2 separate regions of the Homo sapiens genome follow, and region 2 is linked to region 1. The links come from fine-mapping of genetic effects on gene expression. A gene starts in region 1. The other region holds a variant in brackets. All regions are shown on one strand. Distances are from middle to middle. Region 1 holds the start of AKIRIN2 (akirin 2). Region 2 overlaps RARS2 (arginyl-tRNA synthetase 2, mitochondrial).

What was found. PIP is the estimated chance that this variant, and not a neighbour inherited with it, causes the effect.
Region 2: its variant is fine-mapped to the expression of AKIRIN2 in whole blood (INTERVAL, PIP 0.96).

The regions. Positions count from the first base shown.
Region 1 is chr6:87,693,075-87,710,265 of GRCh38, reverse strand. AKIRIN2 (akirin 2) reads left to right here and starts at 8,033. Exons shown (of 5, transcript NM_018064.4): 1 at 8,033-8,816. The coding sequence starts at 8,582. RefSeq lists enhancers at 1-64, 4,517-4,636, 7,462-7,771, 8,082-8,141, 11,258-11,777 and silencers at 8,302-8,471, 8,652-8,861.
Region 2 is chr6:87,531,834-87,539,833 of GRCh38, reverse strand. All of the region lies in intron 8 of RARS2 (arginyl-tRNA synthetase 2, mitochondrial), which reads left to right. Among named protein-coding and RNA genes, the nearest start is that of RARS2, 54 kb to the left of the region's middle. The variant AC/C (reference allele first, on the strand shown) is at 4,157.

The DNA of each region.
Region 1 (17,191 bases):
GGCACAAGAGGGAACGAGAGCCTGACACAGACAGTGACACCAATTCTGAGTCAGGCTTGGACTTAAGCAAGACAACGGAACAGACAGCTGCAGTAGAAGGTGTGAGGGAATTCTAAAACTAAATGATGAGGCGGGGCTAGAGACAACCTTTAGGGGCTTGAGGTCCCCCACCAATGGGGAGATAGTGTGTGAAGCTTTTCATTATTCATCAAATGTTTACTGTTTAGTTTATAGCTGGCACTCTGCAGTGAATAGAACATGCATGGTCCAAAGTATTTCATGTATTTAACTTTCCAAACAACTGAAACTTTAAATTATCTGAATCTTAAATACCTTCTATGGGATATTTTCTTTTTCTTTTCTTTCTTTTTTTTTTTTTGAGATGGAGTTTCGCTCTTGTTGCCTAGGCTGGAGTGCAATGGCATGATCTCTGCTCACCACAACCTCTGCCTCCCAGGTTCAAGTGATTCTCCTGCCTCAGCCTCCTGAATAGCTGGGATTACAGGCATGCGCCACCACGCTTGGCTAATTTTGTGTTTTTAGTAGAGACAGGGTTTCTCCATGTTCGTCAGGCTGGTCTCGAACTCCCGACCTCAGGTGATCTGCCCGCCTCGGCCTCCCAAAGTGCTGGGATTACAGGTGTGAACTACTGCACCCAGCCAGGATATTTTCTTTTATTATTATTATTATTTTTTAAAATTATACTTTAAGTTTTAGGGTACATGTGCACAACATGCAGGCTTGTTACATATGTATACATGTGCCATGTTGGTGTGCTGCACCCATTAACTCGTCATTTATATTAGGTATATCTCCTAATGCTATCCCTCCACCCTCCCCCCACCCCACAACAGGCCCCGGTGTGTGATGTTCCCCTTCCTGTGTCCAAGTGTTCTCACTGTTCAATTCCCACCTATGAGTGAGAACATACGGTGTTTGGTTTTTTGTCCTTGCGATAGTTTGCTAAGAATGATGGTTTCCAGCTTCATCCATGTCCCTACAAAGGACATGAACTCATCCTTTTTTATGGCTGCATAGTATTCCAAGGTGTATATGTGCCACATTTTCTTAATCCAGTCTATCATTGTTGGACATTTGGCTTGCTTCCAAGACTTTGCTATTGTGAATGGTGCTGCAATAAACATACGTGTGTATGTGTCTTTATAGCAGCATGACTTATAATCCTTTGGGTATATACCCAGAAATGGGATGGCTGGGTCAAATGGTATTTCTAGTTCTAGATCCCTGAGGAATCGCCACACTGTCTTCCACAATGGTTGAACTAGTTTACAGTCCCACCAACAGTGTAAAAGTGTTCCTATTTCTCCATATCCTCTCCAGCACCTGTTGTTTCCTGACTTTTTAATGATTGCCATTCTAACTGGTGTGAGATGGTATCTCATTGTGGTTTTGATTTGCATTTCTCTGATGGCCGGGCAGAATATTTTCTAATATCATGTTTGTTACACATTTTTTGAACTGCATACTAAACATAGTTTGTGCTTTTCTTGATGATTCATGGTCACTGTCTTGTGCTCCTTACTTAGGGTTGCCAGATAAAATACAGGGTACCCAGTAAAATCTGGATTTCAGCTAAATACATGCAATATTTGTGACTTTCTTAAAAAATAGAGATAGGGTCTCACTATATTGCCCAGGCTGGTCTGAAACTCCTGGCGCAAGCAATACTCTTGCCTCAGTCTCCCAAAGTGTTGGGGTCACAGGCATGGGCCACTGCATTCCAGCCTGTGACATATTTATACTAACAAATTATTCCTTGTTAATCTGAAATTCAAACTGAATTTGAATTTGGGCATCTTATATTTTTGTTAAATCTGGCAACCCTACCACTGTTATATATGATATTATAATAATACAAGGGAGCCTCAGCTGCAGTTGAGCCGCGGTAGGGCTAATTGTCCTGACAGGGAGGTGTCTCAACGTTGTTGTTCTTTTTCAATTCTGTAGTTATTTTTGACAGTCTCTTTTATTGCTATCCAATGATTCTACTGCTTGTTGTAGCCAGTGTATAGCACCTTTAATTCTCTTTTCTCTCTCCTAGTATATTCTTCCAGTTGGTTTGGACTGGAAAATAAGATCCCCAAGCACATTTGAATTTTCTGTCAAGTTAAGAGTAAACAGTTTTTGAAGAAGGGTGCAGGTACTTGAGGGCACATACTTAAGAAAAGTATGCAAATTTAAAAATAAGGACTTCGGCCGGGCGCGGTGGCTCACGCCTGTAATCCCAGCACTTTGGGAGGCCGAGGCGGGCGGATCACGAGGTCAGGAGATCGAGACCATCCCGGCTAAAAACGGTGAAACCCCGTCTCTACTAAAAATACAAAAAATTAGCCGGGCGTAGTGGCGGGCGCCTGTAGTCCCAGCTACTTGGGAGGCTGAGGCAGGAGAATGGCGTGAACCCGGGAGGTGGAGCTTGCAATGAGCCGAGATCCCGCCACTGCACTCCAGCCTGGGCGACAGAGCGAGACTCCGTCTCAAAAAAAAAAAAAAAATAAATAAAAAATAAAAAAAAAAAAATAAAAATAAGGACTTCATAATATCTTAATGTGACTGCCAGAGATTATCCTGTAATTTCTTTTCAACGTTCCTCAGGCTAAGTGAATCATGGTTTATTTCCTGGAGTGCATAGGGCATTGTATAAGGAGAACTCAGTCGCTGATGAAGAGGTGAAAGCTATATTAGGTTGGTGCAAAAGTAATTAAAAGTAATGGCAAAAACTGTAATTACTTTTGCGCCAACTGAATTGATAAAATAATTTGCAATTGTGTTTTTTACACTTGAACGGGATGCTGAATGTTCTTGACAATCTTTGGGGAGAGTCAGATACTGGTCTGGCTTGAGTAGTTAACAGGTAATCTTGCCTTGAGACTGGATCGCACTAGGTGACCTCTTGAAATAACTGGCAGATATATGGTTCTGCTTACTCTGTGATCTACCCAATCGACTCAAAATAATGACCACATCCAAAATTATGAAAACTGAAAAATTAGTCAGTATCATATCTACAACAGAAAGTACTGTGTATTCCAAATATGGTGCTTAGAAGAGATTTGGGCCAGCTTGCAAAATCTTATGCAGAAGGAATTACAATGTCTCTTCTTCCCTAACTGCACTCATTTACACAACGATTAAACAATTTTTCTGCCCTAGACAATCCTTGTTCTGAATATAGATTTGAAGTGGCTCCTGAATTAGAACTGCCGTTCCTAATGCTGAGCCTATGATTATTCAAACTCAGTATGAGAAGTCAGCAAACACCTCCCCACACCTTATATATTTGCATTTATCTTTATTTGACATCAGAAAAAAATTGTTTGAAAATGATTTAATATAAGCAGACAATCTTCAGGCTCAGGATGATGAGGTCTTATGTTACCCAGCTATGTCTACTTTTATTGGCTTTAGTCAAAGAATGACTCATCAGAATCAGATCCTGGAGAATATTTTGGGAGGTGTTAGGAAAGTCTAATACCAAGCAAGACCAGTATCTTGGTAAAATAGTTTAATTTTCTTCAGAGGCTTCTGAGATTGTACAAATCAGAAAATACTTGCTAGGTCATGGTAAAACTATTCTAAATATGTTAAACCTTTAAAACTTGTTACAGGCTTTTTAGTTACAACAAGAGCAATTCTGGTCTGTGTAGGTCACTGGAGCCATTAGCTGTACAGTATATTTAGATTCATGTGACCTGATTCAACTTATTAATGTGTTAAATATAGTTTTCTTTTTCTTATTTTTTCTTTCCTTTTTTCTTTTTCTTTTTTTAAACATTTTTATTTTTTGTAGATATGGGGGTCTTGCTATGTTGCCCAGGCTGGTCTCGAACTCCTGACCTCCTCCCTGCCTTGGCCTCCCAAAGTGCTGGGACTACAGGCATGAGTCACTGCCCTCAGCTCTTTTTCCTCTTTAGTACTTCCTTCCCCCCGTCTCCCATCTTAAGGTCTGCTGTCTTTTTCTTCTTGATCAACAAAATAAATTCATTTTTCAAATATATTGTGGTGGCTTACACTTGTAATCCCAGCACTTTGGGAAGCCGAGGTGGGAGGATGGCTTCAGGCCTGGAGTTCAAGACCAACCTGGGCAATGTACTGAGACCCTGTCTCTACAAAAAATTTAAAAATTAGCTGGGTATGGTAGTGCAAGGTTGTAGTCCTAGCTACTTGGGAGGCTGAGGCAGGAGGATCACTTGAGTCCAGGAGGTCGAGGCAGCAGTGTGCCTTGATTGTGTCACTGCACCCCAGCCTGGGTGACAGACCAAGTCCCTGTCTCTAAAAAATAAAAGTAAAATATACTATGTCATGACTTACGGCTTTTAAGTATTATCTTTATTTTCAAGTTTAGCCTAATAAATACTTTTGTAGGTTTTTTTTTTTCAACAGCTTCCTTCTACTCTAAAAGGGTTGCTATAGTATTTTAGCAGATCTATAAAGGAACAAGGATAATGTGGGCTACTGGGGATAGTGTGATAAAAAATGTTTAAGAAATATTCAGTGGACATTTACTGAAGCGTGCAAGGTATTATACTATTGGTAAGGAGCTAACACAATGACAGGAGAGGCAGATTCATGAACAGAATTTTATTGCAGTGTGGTGAGGATAATGATGAAAATATGCAGATAGGTGTCTCTTTCTCTGTGAGGCTATAAAACTAACTTGGCTTTGAAACACTGCGGAGGGCTTCCTGGAGGAGTTAATGCCTGGCTTGAGTCTTAAAATATAAGTAGTCAGGCAAGAAGTGTGGAGCAGAGAGCCTAAGCAAAGACATAGGTGAATAGGGAAGGGTCTCCCTTGTCTTTTTAGTTTCTGAAGTAGCTTCCTGAGTCATTGGTAGAAGGGGAGGCACCCCAGCCCTGTCACTGTTTAATCTTGACAGCCTTTTGCAAATATACTGTGCAGCGGTGACCACACAGGCAACTATTATGACTAAACTATCAAGTTTACCAGATATCCCCCACCACCTTTAAGTACAACAACACTTTGCTGACTGGGTGCAGTGGCTCGGCCTGTAATGCTAGTCTGTAATGCTAGCCTGTAATGCTAGTGGGAGGATCACTTGAGGCCAGGAGTTTGAGACCATCCTCGGCAACTTAGACCTCTGTCTCCACAATTAAACAAAAAAATACTTTCCTCATTTTCTAGGCATTCTGGTATATTTCAAATGATAGCCTGATAACCACAATCCTCTCTGTATTAGTTTCTTACAGTTGCCATAACAAAGTACCACAAACTGGATGGCTTAACCTACAGAAATTTATTGTCTCATGGTCTAGAGAATACAACTCTGAGAAGGTGTTTTCAGGGTTGGTTCCTTCTGAGGACTGAGGGAGAACAACTTCTCTCCTAGCTTCTGGTGTTTTGCTGGCAATCTTTGGCATTCCTTGGCTTGTAGAAGCATCACCCTAATCTCTATTTTCATGTTCATGTTCATGTGGGTCAAAATTCCCTTGGGCCCATGCCTGGGTTCAAATTCCCACCCCCACCCAGTCTCCCCTTCACCCTGGCCTTTTTTTCTTTTCTTTTTTTTTTTTTTTTTTTTGAGACAGGGTCTGGCTATGACACCCTGGCCGGAGTGTGGTGGTGTGATTACAGCTTACTGCAGCCTCAACCTTCTGGGCTCATGCAATCCTCTCACCTCAGCTGCCCCGAGTAGCTGGGACCACAGGTGACCACCACCATGCCTAGTTAATTTTTTAAAAATTTTTGTAGAGATGAGGTTTCTTATCATTGCCCAGGCTAGCCTCAAACTCCTGGCCTCAAGTGATCCTCCCACCTCGGCCTTCCAAAGTGCTGGGATTACAGGTGTGAGCCACCGCACCTGGCCCAAATTTCCTTTTTTGTATAAGAATACCAGTCATATTGGATTAGGGGCCCATCCTACTACATTTAGCTAATTACATTTGAAATAATCCTATTCCTAAGTAAAGTCATATTCTAAGGTACTGGAGGTTAGGACTTCATATGAATTTTGAAGTCCTTGAATTCCCTCAAACATAGGGAATTTAACTCACAACATCACATTTCAAATGTAGGTTTTATAACTTATGGGCAAATCTTAATTTCAGAAAATATTACCAAGTGTTTAGAATTTACTAGAAATTTACCTAGTAGGTGTCTTAGTTAAGCTGCTGTTTCATTAAATGCTTATCTTTTTCAAAAGATTTTCCAAATGTAGGAAATGTAGGATATTTCCAAATATCCTAAATTAAAACTAGAAGGGCTTACTTGTTGACACAGTGTGATCAGGACTGCTGATCTCTGAAGCACTGGACAATTCTATAAAATTGTCTATAAAAAAGAATATATTGAACTACTTCTAAATATGGTTTAAAAATAATAGACAAAATGGCTATAAAACATCTGTTACTGAATAAAGAAGAATACATGAGCACTGGAAATCAGTATTTATAATCATTTGACAGTTGGCATTCACAAAATTGTTTCATATTGCACTGGTGATAGTTTCTACATATATCACTTTTTTTTTTTTTTTTTTTTTTTGAGACGAAGTCTAGCTCTGTCACCCAGGCTGGAGTGCAGTAGCTTGATCTTGGCTCACTGCAACCTCCGCCTCCCGGGTTCAAGCGATTCTTCTGCCTCAGCCTCCTGAGTAGCTGGGACTATAGGTGTGCGCCACCACGCCCGGCTAATTTTTTTTATTTTTAGTAGAGACAGGGTATCACCATGTTGAACAGGCTGGTCTCGAACTCCTGACCTCGTGATCCGCCTGCCTCGGCCTCCCAGTGCTGGGATTACAGGCGTTAGCCACCGCGCCCGGCATCATTTTCTTTTCTTTTCATTTTTTTCAGACAGAGACTCGCTCTATCACCCAGGCTGGAGTGCAGTGGCAACATCTCGGCTCACTGCAACCTTCGCCTCCCGGGTTCAAATGATTCTCCTGTCTTAGCCTCCCGAGTAGCTGCGACTACAGGCGCGCGCCACCACGCTCGGCTAATTTTGTATTTTTAGTAGAGACGGGGTTTCACCATTTTGACCAGGCTGGTCTCGAACTCCTGACCTCAGGAAGATCCGCCTGCCTCGGCCTCCCAAAGTGCTGGGATAACAGGCGTGAGTCACCATGCCCGGCTACACAGATCACTTTCTAAATTAGCGCTGTATTTGATTCTTATTTTAGGTATGTGACTAAAAGTACAACTTCTAGAAACACTTTTTTCCCCTTCCGCTTACAAAATGGATCCATCCAATATCTATTACCTAAACATTTCACTGTCTTTTGATTAGTTTTGTAACAAAGTTCACAATATATGCACCAATATTCAACAGAAGTAATGCAATGTCTGATACCACTTGCTTTTTACCCAACGCAAAACAATTTGATTCTGTAAGTCGTTCAAGTCCTATTCATTTACAGAAGCAAAGCTGGCTTTACAGAATTTCATTAGTGGATGAAGCAGCTACCTCCGAAGGGTAGAGCATCGAGTTGAATCAAGGATCCTGTAACCTGATACTATTACTGTTGTTCTGTCTGCCAGTCCTAAATAGGTTTCATAATCTCATTATCTCCTATCCTCTCCATGTGAAAGGTCTTGTTTTGGGTACTGTCGCTACCGAAATTAAGCTAACTTTGACTAGAGATTGGTTTATTATATTTCCCAGATCTGAAATCACTGTGGGAGCAACTATACGGAGAATCTTAAAAGATTTCTATGTCGCTTAGCCTGCTTTTGCCACGGGTTCGCTTTCCCATCTCCCACTGTCTCAGAACCTTCTCTTTTTTTCTCTTTTGCTTAGTTCCTCTTACACTCAAGCTGTGTAGGGGGATTTAAATTCCAACCCGGAACTCGGAATCGCGCGCCTTGCATGACGGAAGTCGTAGTTTCTGTGACTCCTCCCTTCCCGCCTTTCAAGCCGATTCCTCCCGGTACCTAAAAACTACAACTCCCAAAATGCATCCCCGGTTTGGCCCGCCCCCGTGCGCAAGCGCTCTGAGGCCGCCGGATTTGAATCGGCGGCGTTGTTATTGACGCCATATTGGGGCCGGCGGCGGGTGGGAGAGTTCTACGAGGGAGGGGAAGCGGTTGGACGTGTTCGCTTGGGTTCCTGCTGCGGCAGCTACCTCGCAATCTCTCTGCATCGATCGCCGCTCGCAAGCTACTGACCGTACTCGGGCGTATTAGGAGCCGCGTTCCAGCCTCACACCCCACGGTGCTGTTTTCGACTTCAGAAAGGATCTAGTCTCAGCACAGAAGCGCCTCAGGCGCGGCGCAAAGCTCGAGCGGACGGCGGGGGCGGCCGGAGCCTCTCTCGGGGGAGCCGCGCCTGAGGAGGCGGAAGAACCCCCCTGACGCGACTGGCGTGTGCTTCTGCCCGCCACCGCCCCTCCCGCTCTCACCCGGGCCGTCCCTGGCCACTGCCCCTGCCGCGGAGGCAGCGGCGGCAGCGGCTCTCCTTTCCACAGCCGGCGCTCCGCGACCCGCTTGGCTCCTGAGCCCGTCGGGTAGGCTCTCCTCGAGTTCCCGCTCTTCACCCCTTCCCTCACCCTCTTCTTTCGTCACCCGTCCCCGACCCCACCCGAGCCCGGCGCCTCAGCTGCCCCCGGCCATGGCGTGCGGAGCCACTCTGAAAAGGACTCTGGATTTCGACCCGCTGTTGAGCCCGGCGTCCCCGAAGCGCAGGCGATGTGCGCCATTGTCGGCGCCCACCTCGGCCGCTGCCTCCCCGTTGTCGGCGGCCGCGGCCACCGCCGCCTCCTTCTCCGCTGCGGCCGCCTCGCCGCAGAAGTATCTCCGAATGGAGCCATCCCCCTTCGGCGACGTCTCCTCCCGCCTCACCACAGGTGGGACCCGGCCCCGCGGCCGCCGGGGTAGTGGAGAGAACTGGGAACAGGGGTCCTGGGGTGTGGGATGCGGCCCCTGGGGTGGGGGTGCCGGACTGTGTGGTTCTTGTTCTTAGCAAAGTAGTAGGGCAGCCACGTTTTTCACTAGGTCCTCGTAGCCCGAGGACCTAATAAGACACAATAGAAATGGGCTGATGTCAAGGGGATAGTGTTTGGAGGTGGGTAGGGGCTTTGCCTTGCCCGTATTGGGTAGAACAGGGACATCTTTTTCTTTGGGCCGAATGATTGGAATTGTTTCCGTAGTCGCTGGAGCCCCAGCGGAAATGATCAGAGAGGACGATATTATTCGTAAATTTAGGCGAAAGGGTCACATTTCACCCCAATCTGGATGTGTGCTTGCCGTAATCGATTGGTTGCAGCTATTAACTCTGGGACTGGGTGGTTTGAGGCGAGGCTACAGCCCCTCCTTCAGTTCAGACACGGCTGATTTTAGTATAGTGGGGGTGGGGGGTGGGGGATGGATGTCACTAGGGCGAGATCTAGGCCTGTCATTAATCACCCACAAGAACGCCACTTTGGCTGAGTCAAGACCTGTTTCCCTAGCAGGGTCAACAACAAAGAAAATGCTCTTCCCGAGTACTGTAATATGATCACACTATAAGTCTAGACCTTGAGAAATGTTGAACTTTTAATAAGCATATTGCATTGAAAATTGGGGCTGAGGAGTTGCTTTTATTTGGAAATGTTTTATTTTTGCCCAACAAAGTATGCTGGGGGAAAACAACCTAGCCTTGAGAATAATGAAGAAATCAACCCAAGATTCCAAGGGACTTCAGACTTTTGCTTTTCATCTTGAAACATTTCCTGAGAGAGACTGGGGAATGTCTTTTGGCTGCTTTGTAGGGCATGTGTATGCCCAGTTTTTTCTGTACTTTGAAATCCTTGTGTGCCCCTGGCACAATCCTAGGATAGGCTTTTGTGGACTAGAAGTGTAAATGTTTCCTTTGTGTGTAGCATGCAAAGATTTCTGTGTGAGCCTTTAGTAATAATATCACCCTTTAGACAAAGCCTTTCCATAGCTTGATTTAAATGTCTCGTTATCAGTAGCTTAAAAAACCGAAGTATATACCTCTGTATTTGGTGACTTCCATTTGAAACTGACTTTAGTGTTTTTTTTTTTTTGTCACATTTAAAAATATTTTCTAAATCCATGGAGTGACCCTCGAATATGCAAGCTACCATTTTTGCTATTAAATATTTGGTCTAATTTAAGGACATACTGTTTTAGAGTTGTAGTGAGTTTTTACGGAAATTCTTAGATAAATTTATTTAATGACCTTACTAAACTGTGTTTTAATTAGATTGAAAAGGCATTTGTTGATTAATTGTTAGGCTTTACTTTGGGAAAAAAAAAAGGAAACAGCCAATGTCAAGAATGAGCTACTGGTGGTTGACATTTTTGGAATTTGTCTTTTAGTGAAATGGTATCATTGGAAATTGAAATGGATTCTGTACTTAACTAATAAAGCCATTTCAAAATAAGGTCATTAAGGAGCTAACCAGCAATACATTTCAGTCGAGGGAGTGAATTAATACAGTGCTAGGTTTGGGAATTAAAGTACTATATCTCAATGTCAAAATAATCTTGGGCATGTATGTGAACAATTGGGGACTATACCATGTTCCTCCCCTTTAAAGCACACTTATTCAGAATTGTGATCCTTTGTAAACGACTTTTCATTGGCATATCTGTAGCGTTGGTTAATACAGTTGGCTCCACATTATCTCAAGTTTAAATTAATTGGACTGTTGTAGTAAAACGACTGGAATTATTGGAATTGTTTAAGCCAGCTGATTGAGATTCACATTCACTTTCCAAAATACTGCTATTTTCTTCAAGGTGTTTTTTTTTTGACATCTACTTTGGAAGTTTGATTATATCCTGAAACCTAAAATCACATCCTTATTGATTCTGAGTCTGCTAAAAGTTATTTCCAAACTAATTTGAATATTATCGCAAAAAGTTTACTTGAGAAAACAAGTTGAAATTGAAATTTTGACTTGCTAAAATTACATTTTTTAAACGGTAGTTTTGAATGACATTCTAAATGTAATTTAGTTTGACTTTGTGTTTATATGGCCAATTTGGGGTATGGTCCTGTATGTTTTTTGTAATGTCATAATGGGAGCTGCAGTGTTGTGCAGGTATCAAAGAGCTTCCCAGTTTTCATGTTAGTAAACTTGGAAATAATTTTCTCATGCACCTGATTTTTAGCTTCCTATTTTAACACCGATTATTCTTAAACTTTATGGGAGTAAATACCCATCTGTCATTAACTAAAATGAGTAGTTAGGTTTGGAAGTAGACAGTGGCTTACCAAATTGAGATTGGCAAACTTGTGGGAACTCTTTGTTTTCCTTTCACATCTGTGAGTTCAAATATAATACAAATTAATGTAGAACTAGAGTACTAAAGTGACTTTTTTTCAGAGCATGTATACACTTTATTTTATCATTGTTCTCCTCTAGATACTTTCAGTTTCTGATGGCATAGCTGAAGTCATGTTGTGGCTTTATTAGTTTCAGGAACTTGGATGTCTGTTTTAAACCTTAGCTATCATTTTAGTCATCCCAGGAAGTTTGACTTGACTATTCTTATTTAAATATTTTTCAAACTGTTGCAACTTAATACTAGGAAAAAGGAAGGACTAGCTGAGCTGACGGAAGTTAAGCTTGCTTTCTTAACCGCAAGGCTTAGAGCCTTTATTATGCTAATTGGCATTATGAATTTTTTAGGGACTCCTTAACACACAGCTATCCCAAACCTGTTTTTTAGGACACCTAAGTGTTACTAATTCAGAAATGCTGTTCAGGGTCTAGGGATGGTTGACAAAGTATAGCCATATTTTTGTGTAGCCTGAGAGCTAAGAATGTTCTTTACATTTTTTAAATGGTTGGAAAAGAATCAAAAGAATTATTTTGTGACACGTGAGAATTATGTGAAATTCAAATTTCAGTGTCCATAAATAAAATTTTATTGGAACACAGCTGTGCTCATTCTTTTTTTTTTTTTTTTAAGTATTGTTCATTGCAGGTGACGATGGCAGAGTTTAATAGTTGTCACACACAGTATATTGCCCCGAAAACTCCATATTTGCTCTCTGGTGTTTACAGAAAAAGTTTGCTTACCCTCATGTGGGGTGTCAGCAGTGAGGTTTATAATACCCCTGGGTATGGAAAAGGAAAAGTGATCAGTGGAAGTAAGGGGAGGGGGAGCAGAAGCATTGAATATCGTTGGTGAAATGAATGCCTCTAGTAGCTGCATCAATACTTACCCTGGTAAGTTAGTTGAAAACCAAAGTATGCTTTACTATTGGTTTTTGAAACATCTCATAATACTACCATTTAGCCAAAAGATTGTCATGACATTCCCAAGAAAGAATTTTAATAAAACCAAAATATTGCAACATTATAAGAGACCGTCAATCAAATCCAGCACATTGTTTTCATTATGTAGTGAATGAATGGTCTGAAGATACCCTTCTGTGAATGTTAATGTATTTGTGAGTTTGTTAGGCACATTAATTCACATTGTTTATGGCTTGGTACCATTAATCTGCCTTAGGAATTGAATTCTGTGAAGAGTTAAGTTCCTTTGTAAGAACTCATTGTACTTGCTGGAAACTTGCCATTAAAAATGGAAACTGCAGCTTGTGAATGGGGAAGGGTTTACAGGAACATAGATTGTTCACCAGACATTGATGCATGCCTGCAAACGGAGACACCAGCTGGCTTCAATGAAATATAAATGGTTCTAGGCGAACAAATGAGACGTCTGTTGGAGGAGGCAGCATCTCTCTTCAGATGTCATTTACATTGAGCCAGAAGTATTTTTTAATATTTTGTGGTTATTTAGACAGCTGTTAAGTTGCTCCTAGTTTCTCACTGGATTTGGCAAATAAATGTTTTTAATGGTCTTTGTACTTTGAGTCTTAAACCTGATATTCTATTTAGGACTGTGTATGTAGCTGCAGTTACTGCATATTTCTGTGATTTATGCATTTAAGAATCCTGTAAGTTTATGGCCATTAAAAACTGCAGTTGTATTCATTACTAATATAGAGCTTTTTTTTTTTTTTTTTCTTGAGACAAAGTCTTACTCAGGCTGGAGTGCAGTGGCATGATCTCAACTCATTGCAACCTCCATCTCCTGGGTTCAAGCGATTCTCGAGCCTCAGCCTCTGGAGTAGCTGGGATTACAGGCGTGCGCCACCACACCTGGCTGATTTTGTTTTGTATTTTTAGTAGAGATGGGGTTTCACCATGTTGGCATGGCTGGTCTTGAACTCCTGACTTCAGGTGGTCCAACTGCCTTGGCCTCACACAGTGCTGGGATTATAGGTGTGAGCCTGTGCCGCCGGCTTTTTTTTTGTTCGTTTGTTTTGAGACGGAGTCTCACTCTGTCGCCTAGGCTAGAGTGCAGTGGCGCAATCTCAGCTCACTGCAACCTCCACCTCCTAGTTTCAAGAGATTCTCCTGCCTCAGCCTCCTGAGTAGCCGGGATTACAGGCGCACACCACCACGCCCGGCTAATTTTTGTATTTTTAGAAGAGATGGGGTTTCACCATGTTGGTCAGGTTGGTCTTGAACTCCTCACCTCATGATCCACCTGCCTCAGCCTCCCAAAGTGCTGGGATTACAGGCGTGAGCCACCGCGCCTGGCCTCCCTGGCTTTTTTTTTTTTTTTTTTGGATGGAGTCTCACTCTGTCCCCCAGGCTGGAGTGCAGTGGCACAATCTCGGCTCACTGCAAGCTCTGCCTCCCGGGTTCACGCCATTCTCCTGCCTCAGCCTACCAAGTAGTTGGGACTACAGGTGCCCGCCACCATGCCTGGCTAATATTTTGTATTTTTAGTAGAGATGGGGTTTCACCGTATTAGCCAGGATGGTCTCGATCTTCTGGCCTCATGATCTGCCCGTCTCAGCCTCCCAAAGTGCTGGGATTACAGACGTGAGCCACTGCGCCCAGCTCCCGGCTTTTTTATTAAGGTAGGAAAATAAAGCCTAACTTGAGCACAGCAACACATAGGCTAAACATGGCTAGATTAGAGGTTAGCCCCTCTTTAGGTGTGGAAGGTACTATTCACTATGGTTGCCACGGAGACATAACCTGAGATGTAAAGGAGAATAATATAAATTTCTTCAGTTTTTTAATGGCTTTATTGGAAAAAGAATGTAGTACATACTAATCGGGTCTTTGTTTTGTTTTTGTTTTCTGAGACAGTCTTGCTCTGTCCCAGGCTGGAGTGCAGCAGCACAATCTCGGCTCACTGCAATCTGCCTCCTGGGCTCAAATGATCCCCCTGCCTCAGCCTCTCAAGTACCTGGAGATACAGGCATGTGCCACCATGCCCAGCTAATTTTTGTATTTTTTTGTAGAGATGGGGTTTCACCATGTTGCCCAGGCTGGTTTCAAACTCCTGGGGCTCAAGCAATCTGCCCGCTTCAGCCTCCCAAAGTGCTGGGATTACAGATTTGAGCCACTGTGCCCGGCAGGTTTTTTCTGCTAAGTGTTTTGATAGATCTAGAAAGACAGTGATAGAAAGCTTTCGTTTTGAAAGATTGAGAATAAAAGCTTCAGTGGAAGTGCCCAGTTGTGAGTATCTTTCCTATTTGAAAAGAGATTTTTCTCTTTATAAAAGAAGAATGTGAAGTAATAGCATGGGTTAAGTTTGGGCCTCTTGAATAGTTGGTTCATGAAACTAGATAATGGTATTAGGAGTGGGAGTAGGTATTTTCAAGTACCTATCACTGAATTAGTTAACCAGCAATTTGTAGTCTCTGTAGTCCTTGTGTTAACCCTATGCCTAGCACTGTTGATTCAAAGAACGTTCTCTATATATGTGAAACTACAGGGAATTTCTTGCCTTTGAGAGCACCGCCTGCTTTTAAAAAGGTATGAGAGAAAATATTTATTTAAGCCTATACAAAACTATCAGGCATCTTAAGTCTTGACATTTCCCAAGGTTCTTAGAGTTGCTATGGTTGGAAAAAAATGTAATTTCAGTTTTACCCTGTAATTCTGTACCAAATTTTCTTTTTAGACTGTTCTATGACATTGTCATAATGTGTAACATTTTTGACAAAAAATGTGACTCCAACGAGTCGTAATAAATACTGCAATTAGTTTAAGACTTTGAATAATACTTTTCTGAGGAACTTTAAGTATATTTCTCTCTTCATTTTTCTGGATAATGATGAGAACATGGATTACATGAATTACAATATTTTAAGTAGCCCCATGTATAAGAATTTTTCTATTATCAGGTATTTGCTCATTGGAAGAAACATTTTAAAGGGTTTCACAGGATTTTTAGAAGAAAATACTTTTTAATAAGAAGTTGTGATTTATTTCCAAAGAAATTGAATTATTTGTTATAGCAAGTTTCTCACATGAGATGATATTGTATCTATATTAAGCAGGGAATCCCTGCAGGTAATTTAAAATTCTAGTGGATGTTAGTTTTTCAGCTTTGATATTTATTTTGGGCCTATTAATCAGAATTTTACAGTATAATAGATTTTGTAATATTTTTGGTGATGAGGATTTTACAGTATAACAATTTTTGTAATATTTCTTGTGATGGTAGGCTTTGTTGGGTGGTAAACTTTCTAGCACTAAGAAAGCAGCTCATAATAATATACTTTTAGTTTGTCTTGGGGTGTAGCTTTTTTTCCCTTTAGTTTTTATCTGTCACAAGTGTCACAGGCAGATCATCTTGAGATGTACTAGTGGCTATTGTGATTTTATTAACATTGTAATCTTTCCATTAAATACAACTTCTGGATTTGACTTTTTAGGTCTTTTGATGTACCTGGATTTCTTAACATTATTAAAACATTTAAATTCTTCTTCTAGAAGTCACTTGTTCGAACCCTTATGAACCTCATTTGAGTTCTAGATACTGCACTGGCTAGGCAAAGAAGAGTAAGAGTCTCTCTTGAGAGACTGATGATAGAGCAGCCACTGTTGATACTTTATTAGCTAGCACTTTATGCTTTATCAGTATACCTATTTTCATTTCTTATTAATATTTTTCCACATTAGTATTCATTTCCCCTTTGATAGCCTAAATATTGAAATTGGTTTACTGATTAAATCACTTTTGAAACAGTTTTTTTCCTTAAAGTGTTAAGGCTTGTTTACTAAGTTTCTGAAATTGTGTCAGTATATGATGTGTATTCTCACTTTGGTTAGCATTCATTTTCATTTCTGTTAATGTTAATTCTTGTAAAACTCCCTCAAAAAAATCAAACTAGTTGGAATGGTTTGAGAGAGGGACTTGGATTTTTCTTTTGTTTATTTTTGTTGAACTGATGAGTAAATGAAGAGTAGAATGTACAGTGAAGTTTGAAGAAAGCCAATTTTTCAAACATTACTGTCCCCCTGAACTGTGCCTTTTAATTATGATAGGAGATTGTCTTGTTCCTCCTACTAAAATATGATTATCTAGAAGAACTTTTCTAAGTGGTATACTTGATTTAAAGTATAGAAGATTTTAGTTGCTATGATAGAGAGGGGGACTTGATGTTCACTGTGACAATCTTTCATAGCCCAGGGTAAAATAGTGCATTATCAGAGCCTGGCATTGTAATTAGTTGTACATGTGTGGAAATACTGACCTATCAACTTGGAATAATTCTTCACTTTTTTTTTTTTTTTTTTGAGACAGAGTCACAGTCTGTCGCCCAGGCTGGAGTGCAGTGGCGCAATCTCAGCTCACTGCAACCTCTGCCTCCTGGGGTCAAGCGATTCTCCTGCCTTAGCCTCCTGAGTAACTGGGATTACAGGTGCGCACTGCCACACCTGGCTAATTGTATTTTTAGTAGAGACAGGGTTTCACCATGTTGGTCAGGCTGATCTTGAACTCCTGACCTCGTGATCCGCCCGTCTGGGCCTGCCACAGTGCTGGGATTACAGGCGTGAGCCACCGCGCCCGGCCATTTCTTAACTTTTAAAACACCAATAAAGCATTCTGGCTAGATATAAATACCTGTCCTAAGATGAGGCATTTTAGAGTCTTGAAGCATCCCTTATATACATTTCTGGATGTAACATGAAGAGGTGTTACAATTTTTTTTTATAGCTAGTCATTGCTGTTTCAGGGGTCTCATTAGATGAGAGTTATGCTTCATTTTGGTTATTGCCTTTTTCTTTTTTTGAGATGGAGTCTCACTCTGTCGCCCAGGTTGGAGTGCAGTGGCGCAGTCTCCGCTCACTGCAACCTCTGCCTTCTGGGTTCAAGTGATTCTCCTGCCTCAGCCTCCCGAGTAGCTGGGACCACAGGTGCCCACCATCATACCCGGCTACTTTTT
Region 2 (8,000 bases), 170 kb after region 1:
TTCCCCGGTGCCACAAAGAAATAGCACTTGAACATAAATTTAATTATCTCAGCAAGGCCATTTTTACTCTCTGCAGAAAGGGTACACTCGCCAGCAGTTTTGCCACGAGAGTATACCGAACAAAGGAGACAGGGTCATTTATAACTTGACACATCCACCTTACTGCTGTGTCTGGTTTCCATTGGCTGGAACGGAACCTCACATTCTGTATTTGTCCCGATTGGCTAGCAACTTTAACTTTTCAAAAGAGGCAAAGGCAGGGGAGAACAAAGGAAGCAGGAAGTAACTTGTGAAATGCTGAGAAAGGTAAAAACACCTCCAAATAAGGAAGAGGAACAGGCTGTCACCTAATGCTTGCTTGGACCAATGTAAGCATGCCAAGGCAGATATTTAGGCTAAATTGTAGGAGCTAAGAACACAAAGTATATTGATTTCTTTATTACGGCTAGCAGATATTTAAGGATGTTATGACAGGTCTTTGAATAAATTTTACTTCTAAGAGAAGTCACTATTTGTCCTTAATTAGACGGGGAGGAAAGTGTCTTTGAAGGGGAACCTCTACTTCACTTTTTACACAGAGACACCCCATGTTGCAGAAAATACAAATACCTGCTTGGAGACCTTGTGTCATTGATTTAGAGTGCAGCATGACATGTGAGAGTTATTCTTTTTATCTTTCTTCTTCCCCACCTCAAAAGTTTTTATTTAATCTTGCAAATAGTAAACCTTTGTCTTCTATGACATTTTATTTTTATCTTTTATTTATTTATTTATTCATTTATTTATTTATTTATTTATGTGAGACAGGATCTTACTCTGTTGCCCAGCCTGGAATATAGTGGCACAATCACGGCTCACTGCAGCCTTGACCTCCCAGGCTCAGGTGATTCTCCCACCTCAGCAACCCAAGTAGCTAGGACTACAAGCACACACCAGCACACCCAACTAATTTTTTGATTTTTTATAGAGACAGGGTCTCCCTATGTTGCCCAGGCTGGTCTCAAACTCTTGGGCTCAAACAGTCCTCCTGCCTCAAACTCCCAAAGTGCTGGGATTATAGGTGTGAGCCACCACACCCAACCTATTTTTTAATTTTTTAAATAACAATAGGGTCTTGCTATGCTGTCCAGGCAGGTCTCAAACTCCTAGCTTCAAGTGATCCTCCCACCTCAGCCTCCCAAAGTATTGGAATTACAGACATGAGCCACTGTGCCTAGCCATATATAGGTGTAGGTTTTGTGGGTTTTTTTGTGGAGGTGAAGTCTCACTGTTGCTGAGGCTGTACAATATTTTAAATATTTCAGGGGAATCTGTCTTCAAACTCCACAGAAACCTAAGAATATATTTCTTTCTATGCAGTTTAATATAATTTCCTGCCTTTAGAGACTCAAAAATAGTGGAAGATCAACATCTATGTTAGAGGTTATTTACTGATGGGTACACATATGGAAGGAATAAGGGCAATAAGGTACTTCTGTGAATAACTAAAAAGTCGAATAATAATGGTGTTGCTTTCATTAGTGTTCTTTTGCCGAATAGATTCACTGGGAAACTGCATTTAAAGACAAAAGAAGGCAAGATACACCCACTTTGCTATTTGTAATAGACGACAAGACCATTAGAGTATTCAGTTGCTCTTTTCCTTCTCCTTTTGCAGGACAGAAAATATGCAAAGCCTAAAATGGCAGCCTACAGGTTATTATATATGCAAATTTTATAGACTCTGTTTTCATTTTAAAATTACATTTGTCACTTTGGATTACTTTCAAAAACAACTGTTAGCATAAATGAGGAATTTTTTTGAGCTTTAAGCAAATGTTGATGTTATTCTGTTTCTAAAAGAAAATCTGAATGTCAACAACTCAATTTATTTAATAATTGAAAGATGCCTTTGCTTGCCCTGCAATGTCACAAATAGCGTAGGTGGTAATACAGAGACTCTGCCCCATCGTTATTTCTGGTCACCAGAAAGGTGACCAGAAAGTCAGAGATCGTGATTCTATGCTTGGAAAGTGCTTGGTGTATTGGTAAATAATGTTGGCTGATTTATTCGAAGGAAAACTTTAAGATAATCTGCATTTACTCTTTCTTATTTGTGAAAATCTGTTTTCTCAAAGCTTTGATGGAACCCTTGTTTTTTTTCCATATCAAGTTGTAGTTAGTAGTGAGCTCTTTGAGAGGAAGGACCATGTCTTCCTTACCTTCCTTATCCACAACCCTAAATATTATGGCTTGCAGTAAATGCCTGAATGAATTTGCTTTTATAGTTCTCTTTTGCCCCCTTTTCTAATTATATATAATTTGTGGAATATAAAATGTATTGTTTGTCCAGGAAATAAGTAACTATTATAGGATACACTAATTACCATTTGTCAGAATTTAACTTACTTTGTTAACATAGTTTACTGCAGAGGAAACCACAGGCCAAACCCAGGATTCCGGCACAGGTAGTCTGGCTCCTGAGTGCTCTATGCAGTGAATGTCCCCACACCCCCACTATAGAATGGCTTTATGAACCATTGATTTCCATTGGTTTAATTATGTACATAGAATTTTCCTTTCTTTCATCCCTTGAGTTGCTATACCAGGGACACAATTAGTAGTTTAGTTTTGGCACTTTCAACCTTCTGGCATATTTGTTTTGAATTTGGCATAGGCCATCCAGTAGCAGATTTTATGGCCTGCCTTCCTCTAAATTGAACTATGATCAGTATTCTCTAAATTGCACTATAATCAGTATTAGTATATTCAGTTTCTCAGCTAGCTTGGAAATGATATTGTATGATAGTTTCAGAATTTCTTTGATGAAAATATTTAACACCCACAGTCATTTATTGCATTTCCATTTTGGTGCATATGCTTCACTAGTGGTTTTTCTCTGTACCTTATAGCATTCTTTTCCCATGACATCTAGCTGTTTTGTACGTGGGACCTAGGATTTTGTTGGCAAGCATTTGAAACTTTTTCTTTAATTATTCTAATTTGGTTTTTTTGGTTACAAAACAGGGAAGTAGTTTTGTTATAGTTCCTCTTCCCTTGTGAATTGGCTGTTAAATAACTAATATATTTTTTTTATTTAGAATTCACATTAGTGATTCAGGAAAACATTTGCAATAAGCTTTAGACAATATATCAAAAAGCCTTTCCACTTATATTGAAAAGTAATTTCTTTTTTTTTCTTTCTTTTTTTTTTTTTCGTGATGGGGTCTTGCCCTGTTGCCCAGGCTGGAGTGCAGTGGCGTGATCTCAGCTCACTGCAACCTCTGCCTCCCGGGTTCAAATGATTCTCCTGCCTCAGCCTCCTGAGTAGCTGGGATTACAGGTGTGCACTACCACGCCCAGCTAATTTTTTTGTATTTTTGCTAGAGACGGGGTTTCACCATGTTGGCCAGGCTGGTCTCAAACTCCTGACCTTGTGATCCGCCCACCTTGGCCTCACAAAATGCTGGGATTACAGGTGTGAGCCACCACGCCCAGGCAAAAAGTAATTTCTTATGGTAAAAGTTAACAAGTGTTAAATCTGAATCATGGATATGAGGGTGTCATCATTTACTTTTACCTATTTAAATAATACTTTTAAAGGTAACTTATCAGGCTTCCTTTTAGATTTAAATTATTTGAATAGACTTTATTATCTAACAGTATCTCTAAGCATATTAACCTTTTTTTTTGCTATAGAAGGTTTTATTAATAGAACTTGACTCATTGCATATTGCCTATTAATATGGCTTTTGTAACCATAGCCATTCTTATGAAATGTAAGGGCAGCCTCTTATAAGAGATAAATATCATGCCAATAAAATATGGATTAGCCTGTATCCTAGCACTGACATTAAAAAAGGTTACATAGGCCAGGTGCAGTGGCTCACACCTGCAATCCTAGCACTTTGGGAGGCTGAGGCAGGTGGATTGCCTGAGCTCAAAAGTTTGAGACCAGCCTCAGCAACGTGGCAAAACTGCATCTCTACTTAAAAAAAAAAATACAAATAATTAGCTGGGCATGGTGATGCATGCTTGTAATCCCAGCTACTCAGGAGGCCGAGGGACGAGAATCGCTTGAACCCAGGAGGTGGAGGTTGCAGTGAGCTGAGATCACACCACTGCACTCCAGCCTGGGCAACAGAGCGAGACTCTGTCTCAAAAAAAAAAAAAAAAA[AC/C]AAAACAGTTACATAATAACACAAATAGTATAAAAATTTCTTTAAGTTCAAAATGGCCTCCAAAGGTTCTATTTCAGTATTTCTACCTTGCCCCTTTCTAGCAGGATTTAAGGTAATTACAGTGATGGGCATTTAATAAAAGAAAAATAGTGAGGGGTTAGTGTATCACTAGATAATTTACGTAATAGTTTTGACCCTGAGCTTCCCCATATCAGTAGGCAAAAAAAAATTTTTTTAAATAGGACAAGATCAAAGCACCGATTCAATGAGTGATAATGTTTACTTGCTCTCATTTTTAAAAACATGGAATTAGTATCTATTCCTCAAGACACAATGTTTTTCCTAACTTTAGAGTCTCCAATTTCTCAACTTTAAGTAAATAATTCAAGACTAAATTCTCATCATATGTAGGGATATTTATGCAGTTGAAGTTTTTATTTTATGAAAAATTGCGTTCAAGATTTCATCATTGTTTTAAGTTACATTTCTTTTTCCAGGGAATGTTACTGTTATGGCTAGTATGAATTTTGTTCCTTAATAACATTTATATGTAAGAAATAGTTTTTAAATGATAAGAAAATCTGATTCCAGCTATCACTTGTAAGAGTCAGTGTAAGTCATTGAATTTCCCACCTACTAAATCATGCAAAGTTCCCCAGGCTCTTATGTGTCTCCTAGGACAGTCCTAGAGGACTCTTCTTGTCTTCAGTGCACACTGGTCTCTTACATGTTTAGTATCCCAGCCTGTGTGATGCTTGGAGGCATGCAGCTCTTCTTGTGTGACAAACATTAGCTGGTGGTCCTTGCCCTGTCCACAGGTCTAGAGACAAGATCGCTATGTAGACACACCGTGAACCATTTCCCACTGTGGGCCTGCACCACCCCAGGGGCTTCCTAGCTTCTGCTCTTCTGGAAGTCTTCCCCATCTCCTCCCCATTCCAGGTAATTCTCCTTTCCTCTATCCTGGCAGTTTCTCCACTTGGCCATTGCTCCCTGCTGTCCCTTCCCAACACTGCTTGCTTTTCTACTCTCTCTCTGCTTATTTGGGACAGCACTACAGTGTGTCATTGTCCTCTTAGTCTTCCTCTTAGAATGAGTTTTGAAATACCTAGCAAGAACAAAGTACACATTAATAGCTGAGTAAATATCTGACACCATTGAAATGTGCAAAAAATACTTTTATCAGCATGAGAAATGTTAACATTTATTAGGTGCTTGTGTGTGGTGCTCTACAAGGAGTTAATAATTATCATCCCTGAATAAAGATGTAAGATATAATGAATGTGGTTATGTATATACATAGAGTAAAAGTAGGAGATTCTAAATATGAAAAGATTAATGGAAGGTGAAATACAGTTTATATCCTACTACTAATGTATTAAGGAGGAGAAATTTGATAACTCATGAAATAGCTCAAGTTAGTTATTTTTTTACCTACCACATTTTGGCTTTATTATTAACTGTTTGCAGTATTGATACATTCAATTTTAATTATATAAACACATTTGAATGTCTTTAATTTTTCATTTCATGTTCGGAATCAACTAGCAGCTAAGAAATTTCTGATCAGTGAAACAGCATTAAACATAATGAAGTTGTTCAAATTATAATCATGAATATTTTTACATGTTCTTTTCTAAACTAGGTAAAAATTCAGTGCATTTTAAGATGACATAAATATATGAAAAAAGGGTCTGTGGTTTCTAAGTTTTGCTAACCATCCTTAGCAGTTATTCTCAGTATTTCTAAGATAAGCATGGCTAGAAGTGGGGTTAGAGCCCCACATCAAGGAGTTAAACTGTGCCCATGTGGCTAATGGTATTCTAGGATCAAATTTAAAGGGATAAGAAAGGCTTATCATACTACTTTTAATTTTCATGCTTAGTTCTTTATATTTGGGCAGATCAGCCCAAGAGCTTACTGTAATTATCTGAGTTAAATTCAAAATAAAATGTTACGCTATTTGGCAGGCCCAACATCTAGAAATAGTGAAAAGGGAATGTTAATTTTTTTTAAGGAAGTCTGAGACATTTAGTTTATTCCCTAAAGGAAACACAACTGGTTTTTGTGTTTTCTTCTAAGAGAAAAATTGTGTTTCCATCCTCAAAAACTTTACTAAGCCATGCTGCCTTATTATGAAGCCCAAATTTAAAATTGCCTTTTTATCTCTTTGTGTCTAAATTTAGCCTTAAAAGGAAGATATCTTCAAAATGCGTACTTTCCAAGGGTTAATTAAAAAGGTACATGGTAACTGTTTAGTTTTATATTGTGCATTTATAGGTATATTGGGAAGTGCTTATTAAAGCTCTTCTCTTTGATAGTGTCAGTTGATTTTCACTAATGTTTGTTTTATAAGTACATATTGCGGAAATACTAAGAATATTCACGTTTTAAGGGCTTTTTGTTTTAATTATTTCTATTTTTTAAGAAAGAGAAGATTCTGGTGAAGTTTTTTCTAAAATAGTCATATCATAATGCATAATAGATTTTTAAATGTTTGGTTATTTGAGTTTAAAGTCCTAGATTTAAAAACAAAGAAACTTCACCCTGAAGAAAGGCTTTATGAAAAAAAAAAGAAACTAAACTCTTTTGTGAAAATAAAGACATTTTGCATGTGTTTGCTTATAACTTGTGTGCACATGTATGTATGTGTGTGAGATAGAATCAGAAACCACTTGTGAATATATATTTATGTTTTTAACATCTGTATACTGGACCGTTAAGCAGTTGTCAATGGCTGTGTCATTCAAAAGTCAAGAAGTCCGCAGTTTACTATCTTATGGGGACCCTTTTTGTTTTCCCATACTTTACCAAAGTCTTCTTTGTTTTCTAACTGACATTGTATGTGTTGTTCTGGACTTACTAATAGGACTACATAAACATCACCTTTTTATGATGTGTCAGGTATCCTAAGACCACTCCTCCCCCCGATTCTGTGATTCACGCAGAGGACTCACAGAACTCAGCATAGTCTTACTTGTGGCTATGATTTATTACAGTGAAGGGATACAAAGCAAAATCAGCAGAGGGAAAAGGCATATATGGGGTAAAGTCCAGAGGAAACCAGGCTTTCCAGACTCCCAAATTTTCCCAGTGGAGTCACACAAGGTGCACATACTTCCAGCAGCAAATTATGAGAATACATGTGAAATGTCCACTGGCAAAAGTTCATTAGATACCCTGTGTCCAAGGTTTTTATTGAGAGTTGGTCATGTAGGTACCCTCTGCTTAGAATGTCCTAAATCCCAAACTCCCAGAAGGAAAGCAGAAGTTCAGCCTAAGCTGTACTGTTTGCATCCACAGTGTAGGCACAATGACCACTTTTATCAGTTAAGTTGGTGGAGACATTCCCAAAAATCTAAGTTAATAGATGCCAGCCAGTGGCCAACCTTGCAAGCAGGATGTTTTAAATATAACAGTATCAGACCTGCTAGTTAACTCTTTTCTAGGGGGAAAAAAAAAGGTAATTTTAACTTTATTTAGCAGTATTTATTTATTTAAGTCTGTCATTCCAGTAATTAACATAGATCATCTATGAAAGGTGAAACGTTTTTACCTTGAGAGATGTTTAATGCCCTGTCCCATTTGTTGGTAGTATCTAGTGGGTATAAGCCAATGTGTCCTCCAGCAATAAAATCATTTTTTCCTATCCAAATACTGCTGTCCGGATGTTTTGATAATAACATTGTAAGGGTTTAGAAGCCTTATTTTTTCATAGTTTATTCACCAATTTTTATTGCTTTCATGAGACTTTAATAGCTTTCTGGAAATAATATAGTAAAGTTATCATTGATGTTTCAACCTGCAGGTGAGTTACAATTTGTAAATATTTGTCCATATGTA